2 separate regions of the Homo sapiens genome follow, and region 1 is linked to region 2. The links come from fine-mapping of genetic effects on gene expression. A gene starts in region 2. The other region holds a variant in brackets. All regions are shown on one strand. Distances are from middle to middle.

Region 1 (10,108 bases), 84 kb after region 2:
ACAGCTGTCCACACTGGTGGGTCCATTTCCCACTCACTTGCCTTCCTGAAAGCACGATGAAGACAAAATGGGCAGCCGGATTCAGCACAAATAATTAAGGGAAGGGTACCCACTGAAATGTTCTGCCACAAACATATACGCCAATAGCCGGACAAGCAAGAGTTCAAATGTTCTCGAAAGCACCAAGCTTAAAAATATAATCTTGACTCTGTGTTCATATTCAATAAATTCTTTCCTATGAGGGTTTGACAATCTTATCATCAGCAAATGTATCCACTCCACTCCTGATCTGCCTCAAACTGGATTGCTTTTTACTTACTAACCTAGGGTAAATGGGAATATGTTAGACTTTGGGTTTGCAGAGTAACTATAGCTTGTTTGTTTGTTGGTTGGTTGGTTGGTTGGTTGGTTGGTTGGTTTGTTCTTGGAGGCAAGGTCTTGCTCTGTCACCGAGGCTGGAGTATCATGGTACAATCATGCCTCACTGCAGCCTCGAACACCTGGACTCAAGTGATTCTCCTGCCTCAGCCTCAAGTAGCTGGGACTACCCACCCCCACACCTGGCTAATACAGCTAGTTGTTTATTCTAGCTTTACTTACTGCATGAGAAGTAGAGTCAAAGATTGAGCAAGTATATGCCTAGAAGGCTCTTATACTTGGCTGGTTGTGGATATCTCAAGAGGGGATATTCAAATCTGTCCATTTTCCCCAGAGCCATCACTGCCACCTTAGTTCAGGCCAGTAACATTCTTGCTTGGTCTACTGTATTAACCTCTTAACTTTTTCCTGGTTTTCTGTACAATCCATTTTCCACTTTGAAGACAGAGCAGTCTTTATAAATCAAATAAGATTGTGCTTGCCTTGGCCTAAAACCTGCCAATGGCTTCTCATCATACATATCTACTTGTTCTATCAATTACTAGAAAGGGATCTTAAAAATCTTCTGTTATGATTGTAGATTTATTTCTCCCTTTATTTCTGTCAGTTTTTGCTTCATGTATTTTGAAACTCTGTTATTAGTTGCATACATGTTTAGGATTATTATGTCTTCTTAATGGGTTGATTCTTTTATCATTATGAGATATCTCCTTTATCCCTAATGATACTTTTTGCTTTAAAGTCTCTTTGTCTGATATTAATATAGCTATTTCTGCTTCCTTACAACTAGTTTTATGTTTCTTAAGTTCTTATATATTTAACTTACTTGTGTCTTTTTATTTAAAGCATACGTGTTGTAAATAGCCTATGTCTGGCTCTTGCCCTTTTATCTAGTCTGAAGATATCTGCCTTCATGTAATTAGTAATACAATTGAATTAAGACTACCTTCTTTTATTTTTTCTCCATTTATGATATCTGGGTTTTGTCCCTTTTATCCTTTTTTACTGCCTTTTTCTGTGTTAATTATTTTTATTGTTTTACTTTATTTCCTCTATTAACATTTTAGTTGTGCTTCATTTAAAGTTTTTTTTATTGGGTCCTCTGAGATTACAATAAGCTCTACTAACTTAATGCAGTCTACCTTGAAAAAATATTAGACTACTTCATGTATAAGAAACCTACAACAGTATGCTTTCACTTGCCCTCTTCTGTCCCTGGTACAGTTATTGACATACATTTTACTCCTACATTTTACAAACTCCATGATACATTTTTATCATTTTGCTTTAAACAAGTATTTCTTAAAGAGATTAAGAAGTGAGGGAGAGAAGTCTTTTCTTTTCCCTTTTTTGAGAAAGGATCTGGCTCTGTCACCCACGCTAGGGTACGGTAGTGCAATCTCAGCTCACTGAAACCTCCACCTCCCAGGTTCAAGCCATCCTTCCACCCAGCCTCCAGAATAACAGGGACTACAGGTACATGCCGCCACACCCAGCTAATTTTTGTATTTTTTGTAGAGATAGGGTTTTGCCAGGTTGCCCAGGCTGGTCTCGAACTCCTGAGCCCAAGCAATCCACCCACCTTGGCCTCCCCAAGTGTTGGGATTACAGGCATGAGCCACTGCACCTGGCCAGAGAGAAGTCTTTTATATTTATTCACATATTAACAATTAAAAGTACTCTTCATTTCTCTGTATAGGTATGAGTGTCCATCTGGTATCATTTTCCTTTGTTTTCCTGAAGGACATTTTGATTTAGCAATCTAATGAAGGCATTACAGATGAAGGCATTACAATTATAAGTCAAACAATTTACAATGGTTCGACTTATAATTTTTTTGACTTAATGCTGGTGCAAAAGCAATATGTTGAACAGAAGCCATATTCAAATTTTGAATTTTGAACTTTTCCTGGGATAGCAATATGCAGTAGAATATTCTCTCTGGTTGCTGGGCAGTGGCAGTGAGCTGCAGCTCCCAGTCAACCACGCAATCACAAAGCTCAACAACCAATATTTCACAGTGTGCTGTGTTGCAGATGATGTTGCCCAATTGTAGGTTAATGTTATTTTCTGAGCATGTTTAAGATAGATTAGGCTAAGCTATCATGTTCAGCAGGTTAGATGTATTAAATGCATTTAGTTTTTCAATATTTCCAACTTAGGATGGGTTTATTAGGATGCAACCCCATGATAAGTTTCAGACCATCTACATTGTGATTCCCTTTTCTTCCTCCTATCTCCTGTCTCACCTCATATCCATTGAGCTCCCTCCCACCTCCTCCAGTCCTCCATCTTTCCAAGTTCTTTAACATTTCTCATAGTACAATTCCCAGAGTGACAAATTCTCTCAGCTTTTATTTATCAGAAAATAGCTTTATTTTTGCCTTAATTTTTTGGTGGATACATTTGCTGGATCTAAAACTTAGGTTGACTTTTTTTTTTTTGGCAGTATTTCAAAGATGTTGTTCCATCTTCTAACTTGCCTTGTTTCTTATAAGAAGACATGTTAATCTTATCATTGTTCCTTCAAATGCAATGTGTCTTTTTTTGGTGCTTTTACTATTTTCTCTTTTTTATTTATGGCAATTTGACTGTAATGTGCTTAGGTATGATTTTCTTTGTATTTATCTTGCTTGCGGTTTGTTTGAGCTGTTTGAATGTAAATTAATATTTTTCTTTAAATTTGGAAAGTTTTAGAGCATCATTTATCCAAATATCTCTCTTCTCCTTCTGGATTCCAATTACACATGTGAGACTGCTTGACAATGTCCTACAAGTCAGTAAGTTTCTCTTCCATTTTTTCAGGGTTATCTCTCTCTGTGTGTTTTAGTTTAGCCAGTTTCTATTGTTTTTCTCTTGTGCAGTGTTCAATCTGTCCTTAAGAGCACTGTTTGACCTTTGAAATCTCTGTTCAGCTTACAGCTCCCCAGAAGCTACTCTCAGCCCAGCCATCAGCCTTACCCTTTGCATGTGTACCTTAATATTTGGCCGAAGACTGAAGAGAACTCCTATGCAGATTTTTGGAGTTTCTTCTGGGTATAATTCCTTCCTTTCTGGCATTCTGCCCTGTGAAATTGCAGCTGCTTTAGCACCCCCAAACATGGATCTCTGCCTACTCATCTCAGTGAGACTGCTATGCTGTGCCTGTGCCCTACTTCCCTACACTGTGTTCCAGAAAGTGCATCCACACAGAAGCCAAGGTGCTTCTCTTCTTTCAAGGATCAGTTTTGCTCTGCCTTTTATCCAATGTCTGAAAGCCATTGTTTCATACATTTTTGCAGTTATACAGTTGTTTACTGTAAGAGAACTAATCCAGTACCAACGACTCTGGTTGCCCCAGAATAAATTCCAAACTCCTTGCCCTTGTTTATAAGGCCCTATACAATCTGGCCTGCCTACTTCTCTGAGTTCACCCTGGCCTCCTTTCCCCTCCCGAGACAACCAAAATACTTCCCACTTTAGAGCTTTTGCACTCCTATGCCTTGTGTCGGGCATGCTGTGTCTCTGACCTTCACATGATGGCCTCTTGCTTACCATTCGAGACCATCCGAATTAAAGTATCCACTCAGTCATTGTCTCAGAAATCTGTTTTAATTATTTGCAGAATGCATATCACATTCTAATATTTTTGGTTTTGTTTGTATATTTAATTTATTTTCTCTTGGCTTATTTTCTGTCTTCCTTCATTAGAACAAAGTGTCCATGAGGGACCTCTTCTGTTTGGTTTACTGTGGTATCTTTAATGCTGGGACTATGTCCAGCACATGGGAGCACTTGATAAATATTTCTTGGGTAAATGGATAAATGAATAAAACCTATTTTGCTTTTATGTTGCTTCATATGTTTCCTTTAAAATACCACACTTCAGTGGGCATGTTCAACTTTACATAACATACAGATAATGGTGAGAAAGAAGATAATAATAATTCCTAATATTTATTGAGCTCTTTTACCATGTGTTAGTCACTGAACTAGAAGATTTCCTTCTATTATCTCAATTAATCCTCATTACAATGCTATGAGGTACCTGCTAGGATTTTCAGCATTGCAGATAAGAAAACTAGGGCACAGAAATTCAGTGACTTTCTGAGTTTCTCACATCTAAAGTAATGGTTTTACCCACACCCCAGAGCTGATTTTTCAGCCAGATTTTCCAGAGTTGCTTTTGTCCAGGCTCTGCTGTTCATTTCCACATG[A/C]CAGGAGATGGGTATATCCTGCCTTTGAGACATGCTCAGGTCATGCTGGTCTCTAGCTCGGAAACATCATGTACCACATCTGTCACCCATTACTCTTCCTTGCCAAAATAGTCCATATTGTGCTGTTGTATCCAACCCCCATGTTTCTACTGTAGCAAAAATATGCTTAACCAGCTGCTGCTAACACTTCATAATGCTCGTGACAACTCTACTGAGAAGCCCCTCTTCATGGAGCAGATGGTGTGAAATCAAGCAGGCAAGCGGAAATGTAGCGGAAGAGCCTGGGGAGGAGGTTCTGGTCAGGGGAGGCACTGCCTCTTTTGTTTTGTTTTTTTTTTAGACTTGAATCTAAAGTAGGTCCTATTCACATCCCTATGAACATGTCCCAAAGTCAGTGTAAGAGCTGGGATACGGTGTTAAAGGAGAGACATTTGGAGAGCGGGAAAATAGAAACATTGTACAGAAGTGACTGATGAAACCACAGGAATGAATATGTTTCTCCAAAAAGCAAATGTAGGTGGAGCACAACAGAAGGCACTGAGCAGAGTTAGGGATTCGGGGGAAAACCCGAAGGGAGGATAATTGTCCCAGAAGAGTAAATGGCATATGTTAATAATCACACTATTAAGAGATGTCATTTTGAATAATGTAAAGAGAAAAACTTCGAAGTCAAACAGACGGGGATTCAACCCCAGATCCACTGCTTGCAAGCTGTAAGGCCCCAGGCAAGTTCCTTACCCTCTCTGGGTTTAAATTATTATCCTTTGGATAATAAATCCTACCATAAGATTTATAAGAGGGAGGTTTGGGATAGAGGCTGGTTGCCTAGGGGGACAACATGTACAACAAAGCCAGTGAAAAGTCCTCCCACAAACCCCAAACTATGAGTGGGTAAAGACCAACCTCCAACACTCACAAACCCTGCAGCGTGTTGGAGGTGGTGCAGAGGCCATGGGGAGGAGGGAAAGAAGGAAATATCAGTGTGTCTGACAGACTTCAGAATAGGAGACACCCCAAAGAAGCAAAAAGTATTCCACTGGAAGGCACAGCAGACCAACTGGAGAAGAGCAGCTACAATTGCTACAATTGGGAGTGACTGCAGTAAGGGTGAGTGCAAGGGATCCAGGGTAAGAAGTTCTGCAGGATTCGAGCAAGGGATGCCCTCTTTTTCTCCTTGGTTGGCAGGACATTTAGAGTCTCAGGGAATCTAATATGCTAAGGGTTATATGAAATGCATGTTGCAAGAAACATTCCAAATTTCTCAGTTAAATTCATAAAAAAATTTGGATGTTTATGAAATCAGGGTGTAAAAATATTGATTTAATTTCCTTTGAGACCAAGTATCAAGTCTCCTGGCTACAAAACTATCCACACTGAAAATGTCCGGGATTCCATGAATGTGGAATGAGTTTGCAAAGCCATCTACATTGCCCTTGACCAAGAGTTGTAATCTCTTGCAACACTGGCCACTGCCAACTCATGGTCACTCATTCTGGCAGTTTCGAGCTTGCTTACTCCAGAAGGAAGAAAAATTATGACATTAAAAAATTTATCTGATCCAAGTGCCTACTTGCCTCTGGTAGTTTGTAGACAAACTAGGTTGGTGCTATTTGGGAATAATTTACATTATTAATGACACTTGAAAGCAAGATATCTTAGGCACAAACTTTCTTTGCCTCACTTTTGCCACAAGCTCCATAAAAAAATGGGAAGGGTTGCAACTTTATTTAGGGTGTTTTGGGAAAGCTTCACTGAAAGGGGACATTTGGGAAGACATAGGAAGGAGGTGAAGGAGTGAGCCATGAGGAAGAAACATTCCAGACAGGAGGATTCCTGATGCGTTCAAGGAACAGCCAGGTGATCAATGTGACTGGAGCAGAGCGATCAAAGGTCACAGAGACCACAGGGAGCTGGGCAGTGGGGCCTTATAAGGATTCAGGCTCTTACTTTAAGTGGCTGTGACACCATTTGGAGGGTTTTGAGAAAAATGACATAATCTGACTAATGTTTTAAATAAATCACTCTTGCTACTGTATTTGTGAGAGTTACTGATTAGACTGTGGGTGGCAAGATTAGAAGCAAGGAAATCAGGCCAAATTTTTGTATTTTTCTGTAGAGACAGGGTTTCACCATGTTGCCCAGGCTGTTCTTGAATTCCTGGGCTCCAGGGACCCTCCTGCCTCAGCCTCCCAAAGTGCCGGGATTATAGGCAGAAGCCACTGCACCCAGCATCCCCTTATTCCTATGGAAGCAAAGAAATCAGTAGAAAACTGCTGCAGCTATGAAGAAGAGAGACAAGGGCTGCCCATGGCCAACACTCCACTTGTGCCCTCCTTCCCAATCCCTCTCTTCTATTCAAGCACATCACCTCAGCAATTCTTTCTTCTTTTACTTGCATTATGACTTTCCTTTTCTATTCTAGATTATTTCCCTTCACATATAGGATTGTTGCTCCATGGCATTAGGCTCTTCTTGTATTGCTATAAAGAAATACCTGACACTGGTTATAAGAAAAAGAGGATTAGTTGGCTCAGAGTTCTGCAATCTTTATAGGAAGTATGGTGCGGGCATCTGCTTGGCTTCTAGGGAGGCCTCAGGAAGCTTATGATCATGGCAGAGGTAAAGGGGGAGCAGGCATGTCATATGGCAGAAGCAGGAACAAGAGAGAGAGAGTGGGGTAGGGAAGTGACACATACTTTTAAATGACCAGATCTCATGAGAACTCATTATCACAAGGACAGCACCACACCATGAAGGATCCACACCCGTGACCCAAACACCTCCCACCAGGCCCACATCCAACATCAGGGATTGCAATTCAACATGAGATTTGGGAGAAGAAAACTATCCAAACTATATCACCCATATTAAACATATGTACACACATACACGCATACATACACATTCCCACTCAACCCACTTATGCCTCCAGCTACTGCTCAATTTCTTTGCTTTTTGTTTGCTTGATTTTTTTTTTTTTTTTTTGAGATAATGTCTCACCCTGTTGCCTATGCTTAGTGTAGTGGTGTGACTGTGGCTCACTGCAGCTTCAGCCTCCCAGGCTCAAGCAATCCTCTCACCTCAGCCTCCTGAGTAGCTGGTACCACACGCACAGACAACCATGCCTGGCTAATTCCTTTGTACTTTTTGTAGAAGGTGTTTCTGGATGAGATTAACATTTGAATCCATAGACTGAGAAAGGCAGATCACCCTCCCTAATGTGGGTGGGCCTCATCCAATCAACCGAAGGCCTGAATAGAGCAAAAACTCTTAGTAAGAAGGAATTCCACCTGCCTGACTTTTGAGCTGAGACATTGGTGTTCTTCTGCTCTCCGCCTGGAACTTATGCAGTCAGCTCTCCTGGGTCTTCGGCTTGCCAACAGCAGATCTTGGAACTTCTCAGCTTCCATAATTGTGTGAGCCAGTCCTTAAAATAAATCTCTCCTTTCTCTCTCTCTCTCCCTCTCTCAATAAATAAATAAATATATATATACATATATAATTATATATATATAATTTTGTATATATATTAATTTTTTTGTTAGGCAGGTAGATGTGGTTCTGGGAACGTTTACAAGTTCTTTCAGAATGCTTCCATTTTCTCAGTGGAATACGAAGCAATGTCATTCACTAGCTGAGAGAGAGAAGTAGGGATATATATATATATATTTAGAGAGAGAGAGATCTTTATATATATATACACACACACACAGATCTATATACACACACACACACACATACTGATACACACACACATACAGGAGTATGTATTATATATCACCTATTGGTTCTGTTTCTCTGGAGAACCCTGACTAATACAGAGAACCCTCACATGGCTCATCGTGTCTCTGCTGCCTCGCAGGGGATACCCTGTGGGTGGACTCCTAAAGGGCAGGAAACAGAAGAACTCGGAACACTCTCCACCCCCTAATAGAGTGTGTTCCTCTGTGCTGCCGCCTTTAGTGGGGAATTAATGAGCTGGAGGAGGTGGGTGCTGCTTTCACTTCATGGATTATGCGCCCCTATAGGATGTGTCATCTCACCTCCCTCACCCTGAAGACCACAGGTGGACCCTTCCCCAGTCATACCATGGGCAGTCCTCCTGATTTTGTGTGTCCTTGAACTAAGAATGCCTTGTATATTTTTAAACAATTGGGAAAAAATGAAAAGACATAAAATATGTTGTGACATGGGAAAACTGTATGCAATTCGAAATTGTGTCCACAGAGTTTTATTGGAACACAGCCACAGCTATTTGCTTAGGTAGTCTCTGTTGCTGCTTTCATGGGCAGAATGGAGTAGTTGCAACAGGGACCATCTAAAATAGTTACTAGCTGGCTCTTCACAGAAAAATTTTTCTAACTTTTACCCTCTGTCATGGGGCTCCATCTCAGCCCAGAAGTACTGTCAGGAGCCAAAGTCTCTGGGCCCAGTTGGGTCAGGCCTGGAAGCTATAGCCGCTTTGACTCCTGTCCAAAGGCCAAATCAGAGCCCAATGTCTGGGGCTCTTCACTGAGTGGGTTCTGGAGGAGGGTTATTGGGTAGGGCAAAACAAATGTGGGTGCTTCATACACTGAGTTCAATACAACATCTATAAAGTTATGGAGAGTTAGCTCCAGAAAGGACTTTAAAGATCTCATAGTTCATTTTACTTATGAGGAAAACCAAGGTCGATAGAGAAAAAGTCATTTTAAAAAGTCATTTCCCAAGGCCACACAGCTGACACTGGATTAGAACCCACATTTTTCTTACTTCCTGTTAATACTCCCATGCTCTTCCCACAGCCCCTGCTCCATCATCTTTCTGATACTTCTGGAATCAGAGCCTATTCCTTCAAACCTTTCAGTGAGCAATGTCCCTTCTTGCAAAGTTCGCTATCAGTTGTGATATGGGAATCCAGGGCCTATGAAGCACATGTGTCTCTAAATTGGGAATTTCTCGTATCTGACATTAGGATGTTGTCTCATCAGTAAGACCAGGAAATGTCTAAAGGCACCATCCTGCAATTGTCTGGAACTCCTTGCTAGGCATAAGGGCATAGAGTAGCTTTTGCCATTCAGAAGTTGTTCTCTGCCTTCAGATTCCAAGACCATTCTAGCGACAGCCTTTCAAACATGACCATGTATCTAATTAATAATATGGATTTTCTGTTGTAAGTTAAAGCCCAAATATAGCTTCAAAATTTGCTTGGCCAGGCACATTTAATAATACCTAAATGCCCCCATGTGTTAAATATTCATCCATTTTTTTCCATAACTGCTTACAATAAATATTGATGATCGTCTAACTTTGAAAATGGCTATGTACATGGAAGAATATTCATGTGTGTCTCACTGATTTTCCTGACAGCGCCAAATGGAGCAGGTAAGCCAATTTAACACAACCAATTTCCACTTTTGCGCAGACCAAATAGGAGAAGTTCTGTGGAAATGAATAATCAATCTCATACCATTATTAATAATAATATTTAGCTTACATACAGCTCTTTCCATCTTCTAAGCACTTCGGCAACATTAACAAATTTATTGTTAATA
Region 2 (10,108 bases):
AGCAAAGCTCTGTGGGCATGGGACCTGCTGAGCCATGTGTGGGATATAATTTCCTGGTGTGCTGTTTGCTAAAACCGTGGGAACAGCACAGTATTTAGGTGGCAGTGTCCCAATTTTCCCGGTACAGTCAGTCATGGCTTCCCTTGGCTAGGAAAGGGAAATCCCCTGACTCCTTGCACTTCCTGGGTGAGGCGATGCCCACCCCTGCTTTGACTTGCCCTCCGTGGGCTGCACTCTTTGTCCGCCCAGTCCCAGTGAGATGAACCAGGTACCTCAGTTGGAAATGCAGAAATCACCCATCTTCTGCGTCGATCAGCTGGGAGGTGCAGACCAGAGCTGTTCCTATTTGGCCTCTTGGAACGGACCTAAAGAACACTCAGAAAATATTTCAAGGTAAACCCAGAAGGTTGTGTAGGTGTTGGCCAGGTAAAGAGTAGGGAGAGAGAATATCTCAGAGAGCAGACACAGCACAATGAAGGCCCAAATAGGAAAGCTGATTGGCATATTTAAGGAGCAGAAAGGAGGACAATGGACAGAAATACAGGGAGTGAAGAAAAAAATTATGTTAGATGAGCCTAGGAGGTATGTAGGGTCCAAAATATGTGGGGCCTTATAGTTCAATGGAAGAATTTTGAAAACATTTTACACTTCATATGATATTTAATTAGACATTCATGTTAGTGGAAGCTCCACTTTGATAATCTAAATTTGAGGCCCTTGATGGAGTTTTTCTGAGCTAGACGTATCGCCCTGGTTTCCAGGTATGAAATCTGAGCTGAAGGGAGAGATTTCAGGATCATAAGCTGTAGGAGTAGATGAGCTTATGTGTGCAGTAGAAAGGTTAAGGCTAAGACTATGGGTACAGAAGGGTGAGTCAGCAAAGGAGATGGTGGTACATTCAGAGAAAAAGGAGGTGAATCAGAGAGACAAGAGAAAGTAATGGTTAAGAGATGTCAAATATCTGATAAAGATCCATGTGGTTTGCAATTAGAAGGTCTTACTGATAGCAGGTTTATAACTTGATTCAGATAGAACCTAGATCACAGTGGTTTCATGACTACACCTATGGTGAATAACCAGAGACAATGAATAGAAACATCTTTTTAAAGAAGCCTTGCTACAAGACTTGCTCTTCTGGCCAAGATGAAGAAACAGGAACTGGATTTACCCTCCCTGCTGAAACAACTAAAACACTAGACAAAAATAGATGAAACAACACTTAAAACATTGGACATCAGTAAAGGACAGTAATATCTTAGAGATAGAAAACAAATGACAAGAGCCATACAATGGTCCCAGATCACTGCCTGATATGGTTTGGCTGTGTCCTCACCCAAATCCCATCTTGAATTGTAGTTTCCTTAATCCCCACGTGTTGTGGGAGGGACCTGGTGTGAGATAATTGAATCATGGGGGCAGTTACCTACATGCTGCTGTTCTCATGATAGTGAGTGAATTCTCACAAGATCTGATGGTTTTATAAAAGGTTTTTTCCCCTTTGCTCGCCACTTCTCTCTCCAGCTGCAATATGAAGAAGGACGTGTTTGCTTCCCCTTCCACCATAATTGTAAGTTTCCTGAGGGCTCTCCAGCCATACAGAACTGTGAGTCAATTAAACCTCTTTCCTTTATAAATTACCCAGTCTTGGATATTTCTTCATAGCAGCATGAGAATACACTGCCTGAAGGAGTCATCCAGGCTACAGTGCAGAAGGAAGGAATTGAATCATCCTGGCCAAGGAGCTGGGGCTGGAAGTGTAGGGAGCCAGGGCAGCTAGTGTCCACAGGAAGATTATCAGGTAAAAGAAAGAATACTCTGAAAGTCTGAAGGGTGTCCCCCTTGAGGATTTAGTTGATTATTGATCAGATTATACACAAGAACAAACCACCTGAGACCAGGAAAAGAACTACACAAAAAGATAAGGGTAAACTGTGTCTGATGCTGACCAAGGGCTGGGAATAGTGTCTATCTGAACAGCCAGAGGGGAGAGCTGTGCAATTTGAGGTGTGCGTGTTGGGGGGAAGTCAGTTACCAGTTAAAGTAAAAAGAAGGAATTTTGCCTCAAAGTGTGGAAAGAGTAAACCTAGTCTAAAACCAGCTCTGGTCCCACCTAACAAAACTCACATCCAAGACCTGAATGGATAAAACTGTCTTTAAATTTTTAATTGTCTCAGAACAAGCTCAAGAACAGTCATAGAAAGACAAAAAAACAAATAACAAGGTAAAATCCACAATATCTGACATCCTATCAAAAATTATCAGGCACACAAAGAAGAAGAAAAATATAAGCCATAATGTGGAGAAAAATCAATCAACCCAAAGTATACAAAAATCACACAGATGTTAGTAGTACAAAAGTTATTATTAATGTATATTCAAGAAGCTAGAGAGAAGAGTGGACACGTTTAGATACGGAAGATATAAAAAAGATTCATTGCTTTATATTGTCCTGTAACTTAAAAAAAAGATTCAAGTTGAAACTCTAGAGATGAAAGCTACCAGGTATAAGGTGCAAAATACACTGGATAGGATTGGCAGTAATCAGATATTACAGAAGAAAACATTAGTGAACTCACAGACATAGCAATAGAGACTATCCAAAATAAAATATGAAGGAAAAAATGAGCAAAACAGAAGCAAAAACAGATCACCAACAAACTGTGGGCCAATATACACTCACCGTCTGACTCAGCCATTCTGGTTTTAAGTATTTTCCAAGAGAATTAAAGGCTTTATGTCCATACAAAGACTTGCATATGAATGTCAAGGCAGCTTTATTCGTAAAAGTTTCAAGTGAAAATAACCAAAAATTCATGAGCAGTAGAATTGATTAAAAATTTTGAAGTATATCATATAATGAAATACTGCCCAGCAATAAAAAAGAATAAACTATTGCTACATTTAACAATGTGAGTGGATTCAAAAATAATGATGCTAAGTGAAAGAAGTCAGACAAAGAGTACCTACCGTGGAACTATATTTATGTGCAATTCTAGAAAACGCAAACAAATCTCTAGTGATAGCAGATCAATGGAGGAGGGGGTGAGGAAGAGGCAAAAGGAAGGAATTACAAAGGTACATGTGGAAATTTGGGGAAGTGATGTATAATCTTCATTTTCTTGGTTTCAGTGATGGCTTCCTGAGCATATAACACACATGCATATGTGTAAGAATATATCCAATTGAATATTTTACACATTTGTAGCTTTGTATATATTCAGCAGTATCTATTCATTCCTTCTGCTTCTTTACCTTAGGTTTAGTCATGAAACCACTGGGTTTCATGTGGTCCAGGTTCTATCTGAATCAAGCTATGAACCTGCTATCAGTAAGACCTCCTAATTGCAAACCACATGGACCTTTACCGGTTATTTGACTTCTCTCGGTCATTACCTTCTCTAGTCTCCACTGATTCACCTCCTTTTGAATCTCAACAAGCTCAACAGTATCTCAATGTTATCTTAACAAAGCTGTTAGAAATAAACAACTTGACTTTGAAACAAAGGAGAGAAATGGCTCAGCAGCTAGGAGAAGATGCAGGGTTGAGTTGCCAACAGTTGGTTTTGTTTGTATTTTGGCCAGGGGATGTGGCTTGGACTGGAGAGAAAGGAGATAAGGATGTAAGCACATGTAGGGCATATCACCCCCTATTTTTTATTCTCTGAATCCTTAACCCTCAGAATAAGTTCTTATTCTTGAGAATCAATGACATTATCTTAAGCTAAATTAATCAAGCCTCCACAGTGTTCTTCTCTCAATAGTGGTGTGGGCCTTCCTAGAAGTAATTTTTCCCAAATTCAGTGATACATTTTAAGTTCAGATTTTAATTGATATGAATCTGTGATACACTCTAAAATAAGATTATTTTATTGAAAAGTGGACTGTAACTTTCCCTTTATCTAGGAAGAGCTCTAAGTTAGAAGATGTTTTGCACTTTTACCGAAGGCTGTGTCTTGTAAGCACCCCCGAGCAACTCTGAGAGCCTTGATTTTTGTGTCCTCAGCATATGTTTGTGTAATACAGAAAGAGAAGCAGTTGCCAAGTGAAAGGGATGTTGGTCTCCAAAATTATAGTTTGATCCCACAAACACACAAACACATACATGCAAAGGATTGTTTGCTTCACGGTTTTTGATATTTAATTCAATGCTGTTGGAACAGCACAAAAACTAAGTGTCAGTTTAACAGAATCACTTGTCCTTTTAGCATTAAAATAACATGGAACTTAATGCTTTAATTTCCCAACATGCCTTTTTATTTAGAAAGATTCAGACTTATATTTCATTTAGAAATAAAATGCCATTTTATTTAGAAAGATACAGGAGCATTCATTCACGGAACTTTCAGATCTCAGTCCACTGCATAAAATCTTGATCCTGTAATAATAGTTTCTGTATCTTGCATATTCATTCAACAGGTTTAACGCGATGAGCAAATTAATGTTCATCGTTTTTAACATGTTTCATCTTAATCAGAACCCACATTCTCAACGTTAATTGAACGTACATAGGACTATACAAGGGTTAGTAAATAAGACAGAAACTGTTGTTCATTTAACCACCGTCACTTTGGACCAAAAAAGAAAAAATATATATTTTTAAAATTGAGCTTAAAAGAGTCTCTAGAAGCTGGAAGCGTGGCTCTTTTTCAGCAAACTGGGGGAATAGGTTTACCGTGTTCCCCCTCTGGGGAATTTTGAGTCGCCACACTCATGTCTCGACCGAGCCTGGCTCGCTGCGTCTGAGCGAGTACTTGAGGAAGGCTGATCTAGAAAAACCAGCTGAGAGAAGGGGCAGAAGCCCCTGAAACCACGGGCGGGGGTGGGGTGGGGAGCGCAGCTTTGGGACCCTCTAGCCGGAGACTTCCGGCAGCTGCCTCCGACTTGTTCTAAGTACAGGAAAAATCTGTGCGCCCAGTTGCCTCACTCCAACAGCGCGCAGTTGTGCCCGGCGAGGATGCCGCGCTAGTCGTGGAGATGCCCCACCACAAAGAGGATTCAGGTGCTTCCTACTCCGGCACCCAGTGGGTTGGTAGTCCTGTTGGCAGGAGACAAGAATCGTCTGGGCTGCTCCTATCTCTGGCAGGACTAGACGGGGCGTGAAGGAAAGAAGGAAAGAAGGAAAGCAGGGATCGGGCACTGCCCGAGGGCAGATACTTGGGCTTTGGTGTTGTCCAGCGCGCTCGGAGTGCGCTGCCTCGCTCACGCGGTCCCAGGCCCCGCTTCTTCAGGCAGTGCCTGGGGCGGGAGGGTTGGGGTGTGGGTGGCTCCCTAAGTCGACACTCGTGCGGCTGCGGTTCCAGCCCCCTCCCCCCGCCACTCAGGGGCGGGAAGTGGCGGGTGGGAGTCACCCAAGCGTGACTGCCCGAGGCCCCTCCTGCCGCGGCGAGGAAGCTCCATAAAAGCCCTGTCGCGACCCGCTCTCTGCACCCCATCCGCTGGCTCTCACCCCTCGGAGACGCTCGCCCGACAGCATAGTACTTGCCGCCCAGCCACGCCCGCGCGCCAGCCACCGTGAGTGCTACGACCCGTCTGTCTAGGGGTGGGAGCGAACGGGGCGCCCGCGAACTTGCTAGAGACGCAGCCTCCCGCTCTGTGGAGCCCTGGGGCCCTGGGATGATCGCGCTCCACTCCCCAGCGGACTATGCCGGCTCCGCGCCCCGACGCGGACCAGCCCTCTTGGCGGCTAAATTCCACTTGTTCCTCTGCTCCCCTCTGATTGTCCACGGCCCTTCTCCCGGGCCCTTCCCGCTGGGCGGTTCTTCTGAGTTACCTTTTAGCAGATATGGAGGGAGAACCCGGGACCGCTATCCCAAGGCAGCTGGCGGTCTCCCTGCGGGTCGCCGCCTTGAGGCCCAGGAAGCGGTGCGCGGTAGGAAGGTTTCCCCGGCAGCGCCATCGAGTGAGGAATCCCTGGAGCTCTAGAGCCCCGCGCCCTGCCACCTCCCTGGATTCTTGGGCTCCAAATCTCTTTGGAGCAATTCTGGCCCAGGGAGCAATTCTCTTTCCCCTTCCCCACCGCAGTCGTCACCCCGAGGTGATCTCTGCTGTCAGCGTTGATCCCCTGAAGCTAGGCAGACCAGAAGTAACAGAGAAGAAACTTTTCTTCCCAGACAAGAGTTTGGGCAAGAAGGGAGAAAAGTGACCCAGCAGGAAGAACTTCCAATTCGGTTTTGAATGCTAAACTGGCGGGGCCCCCACCTTGCACTCTCGCCGCGCGCTTCTTGGTCCCTGAGACTTCGAACGAAGTTGCGCGAAGTTTTCAGGTGGAGCAGAGGGGCAGGTCCCGACCGGACGGCGCCCGGAGCCCGCAAGGTGGTGCTAGCCACTCCTGGGTTCTCTCTGCGGGACTGGGACGAGAGCGGATTGGGGGTCGCGTGTGGTAGCAGGAGGAGGAGCGCGGGGGGCAGAGGAGGGAGGTGCTGCGCGTGGGTGCTCTGAATCCCCAAGCCCGTCCGTTGAGCCTTCTGTGCCTGCAGATGCTAGGTAACAAGCGACTGGGGCTGTCCGGACTGACCCTCGCCCTGTCCCTGCTCGTGTGCCTGGGTGCGCTGGCCGAGGCGTACCCCTCCAAGCCGGACAACCCGGGCGAGGACGCACCAGCGGAGGACATGGCCAGATACTACTCGGCGCTGCGACACTACATCAACCTCATCACCAGGCAGAGGTGGGTGGGACCGCGGGACCGATTCCGGGAGCGCCAGTGCCTGCACACCAGGAGATCCTGGGGATGTTAGGGAAAGGGATTGTTTCTTTTCCTTCGCTCTATCCCAGGGCAGGACAGTATCAGGCACTTAGTCAGCTCTAGGTAAATGTTTGTACAGGGCACACTCTACACAAAATGGGTACCTTCCATTTTGTGCAACTACAGTCACAGAGTCGTGATCCCCAGATTCAGGTTCCCCAGGCTGGTAGGCTGGCAATCTCCTCTCACTCACCTCTTATGGTTTGTTGTGGTTCTTACGGCAGTGGGGCCCGGTCCAGAAATCTCGAAAGTACCCAGTGAAAGGGGCAAGAATGCGCCAGAGAAATGCTGTAGGGGGAAACGCTAGCAAGGTGTCTAGGAGAAACAGAACGACCACCAAAGAAAACCAAACCAAGGAGTAAACTGCAGGGTTGCCACAGACATTGTCAGACTTTCCGGCCTGCCCAGGGCTAATTGAATGACAGTATTTAGAAAAAGACAAATAGAGCTATTTTCTTTTCTTCTTCACTGTGTTTTTTTTGCAGTCTCACTCCCATATTTGAAAATTCTAGTCCCAATAATTAGAGATTTAGCCTGAAAACAGTTTATCTAAAATGCAGAGGTCTCCCTATTTTATAGCTGGTGAATTCTGAAAAGAAAGTGCCCACTTGGTATTTCATTAAGAAGAAACTTACGTTGGTCCAGTAACTTTAGGATGAATTCAGGGATTACATGGAATCTGAGAAATTGTAAACTTTATTCTGAACATTCCGAAAGTCAAAATGAAATGCCATATTTTCACTCTCAACATTGACAATTAAGGGAAAAATCAAATCCAAACTATTTTACAAATTACATAGGATTTAAATTTTGTTTTCAAAATTGGTTGATCTTAGTTCTAAATCATTTAATATCTTATTTTAATTACTGAGATTAAATGATTTTAGTCATTTGACCGTATCTAAAGGATAAGCCCTTTAGAAGCATTAATGTTAGTTAACATGTTTAAATTATATGTTTAAAGTATTGTGGGGTTTATATATTTATTTATTTAGTCCATATTTTTACTGTTTACAAGTCAGGGAGTAGTTGGAAAGGATCCAAAAGGGGGGAAGATTTATACTTTTAAAATAAAGTTTGCTTTTTCCTGTTTCATCAAAAAGGTATTTAACATCCTAAAACACTTTTGAAAAAGCCCCAATTTATATAGAATCTGAAAAACATGAAAATGCCAGAATTAAATAGTAGTTGTTTGTGATCCCTTGAAATCTGATCATTTTAATTAGCAAAAAGCAATAATATTTTATATTCCATACTTCCCAGAAAGTTAATTGATTCAAATTCTTGCTATGTTATGCCGTCATGCAGATCAAAGAGAACTTGTACAAACAAAAAGATATTAACTGTTTTTTCTAGAAAAACCTTTGTTAGTTATTTAGCTGTAGCATAATACACAGTAGAACTCATTTTTCCGAAGATGATTGCCATAAAGCTTTACCATTTTACAAAGCTCTAGCATTTTAAAATGTTTTCCTAGGCATTCTCTCATTCAGTCGTTACCTCAAAGCTTTGAAGGGAGTATAATTATCTTCATTTCACAAATCATGAAGCTAATGACATTTCATGGAAGCTATTTTTATAGGAATTATGGAATTGGAGCCCTCCTTTGAGTGTCTTTGGATGTTGTCACCACCATCAACAGGCAGTGTTATCTCCAACATGTTTGATGAGAAAAAAACATAAAGGAAAGGGACTTGGGTTTCATGGCAAGAGATTCAGCTTAGATGGGAATGAGCTGGTCTCTGAGGCAGAGTTTCCTGTCTCATCTTTGTATAAACTCCTTCTTAGAAACCAGCAGAGGCTCTTAATGTACGTCCATCTTCTCCTTCCCACCACAGACACCCACTCCTATGTGCGTTTCTGAAAATTACAGGGTCATTTGTGGATGTGCTTTAATTTAGTATAGATATAATCTGATATCATTATCTTTCTTTCCCCCCGCCCCCCGCCACCAGCATTCCCCCTGCACTCAATTTGTGCTTATATTCCTTTTGCTGTATATATACCCCTGGCTCATTGCTTCTGGAAGCTGCATTACTTATTCTAGAGTGTGGGTCTCCTACAATTTATTTATATAGCCCCCTAAATCAGTGGTTCTCAACTGGGGGTGATTTTATGCTCCCCAGGTGTGATTTGGCAGTGTCTGGAGACATTTTTGGTTTTCACAACTGGAGGTGGGCACTGCTGGTACCTAGGTGTATAGATGCCAAGGAGGCTGCTAAATATCCTACCATGCCCAGGACAGCCCCCATTACACAGAATAGCCAGTCCCAGAGAAACTCAGCCTTAGATTAGTGTTTCTCCTTCCTGGCTGCACATTAAAATTATCAGGGGAGCTTTTAAAATACACTGATGCTGGGATCCACCCCTGACCAATTAAATCAGACCCTCTGGGATGGGGCCTGGGCTTTAGAGTGTGTTTTTAACACTCCCCAGGTGATTCTAATGTGCAGCCAGGTTTGAGAATCTTTACTCTAAGGACTCAATCTTTGAAAGTTACAGCATTGTAGAGGGGAAGGATGATCCAGAATTAATTAAAGAAGGAAGAAGAGTGAACAGTACTGAACTGGATGCAAGATTATGACTGTGCAAATCCTCCTATTTCAGATTTAGGTTCTTTACTGGTAAATTGGATAAAAAGTTGGCAGTTCTTTTACTCACTGGAGCATGATGAAGATAAATGAGTTACAGTTGCCCTAGACTTTTACGATTAGTAAAACCAATGGATGGACAGAATAAATAAGTATAAGCAGACACCTATAGTCTAATATCGCAACTCCAGAAAATCTTTGAGAAAATCTCACACATGATGGGAGTGGGACAGGGAGTTGTTTTGTTTTTGCTTCCCTTGAGTCTCAGCAAAAGAACAGTCATAGAAAATATTTCCAAAAAATTTAGATATAATTTTGCTTGGCAATTAGAATATACCCTCTGTCAGCTTTGTTCAGTTGTTGGACCTATTAACCAATCCATACCAGACTAATTTATTTCTAAACAAAGTGGCGAATGGTGTCCAATGCCTTTTCTGAGAAAGAGAAAAATGGCCTCTTCAAAAGACGCAATTTGGTATAGACTTGTCTGGCCGTTTTGTAGTGTTCTGGAGTGGGGAGCATATACTACCCTCACAGGTAAACGAAACCTTACCTGTATGTATTGTCTCACCCATATCCTGCTACAGGAGAAAAAAAAAAAAAAAAAAAAAAGAACATTTCCATGGATCAGTTAGATTCCTTTAGACTTACAGGGAGGCTAAAATCACAGCATTAGGAAAGACTTTAGCATTTGGCACCTTGAATGAATATGGAAAATATAAGACCCAGGGTCTGTTGGTAGCCAGAAGAATGGATGCATTTCAACAGCAGTAAT

Which allele goes with the higher level. Alleles are on the strand shown, and positions count from the first base shown. SD is a standard deviation of normalised expression in the study named.
In carriers of allele C in region 1, the expression in pancreas of the gene that starts at base 5,426 in region 2 tends to be lower than with A alone (moderate effect, 0.45 SD a copy in GTEx).

Evidence for each region.
Region 1: its variant is fine-mapped to the expression of NPY in pancreas (GTEx, PIP above 0.99).

Annotation. Positions count from the first base shown.
Region 1 is chr7:24,362,326-24,372,433 of GRCh38, forward strand. All of the region lies in intron 1 of LOC107986777 (a long non-coding RNA gene), which reads right to left. Among named protein-coding and RNA genes, the nearest start is that of NPY, 83 kb to the left of the region's middle. The variant A/C (reference allele first, on the strand shown) is at 4,575.
Region 2 is chr7:24,278,765-24,288,872 of GRCh38, forward strand. NPY (neuropeptide Y) reads left to right here and starts at 5,426. Exons shown (of 4, transcript NM_000905.4): 1 at 5,426-5,511; 2 at 6,477-6,664. The coding sequence starts at 6,477. All of the region lies in intron 2 of LOC107986777 (a long non-coding RNA gene), which reads right to left. RefSeq lists an enhancer at 1-560.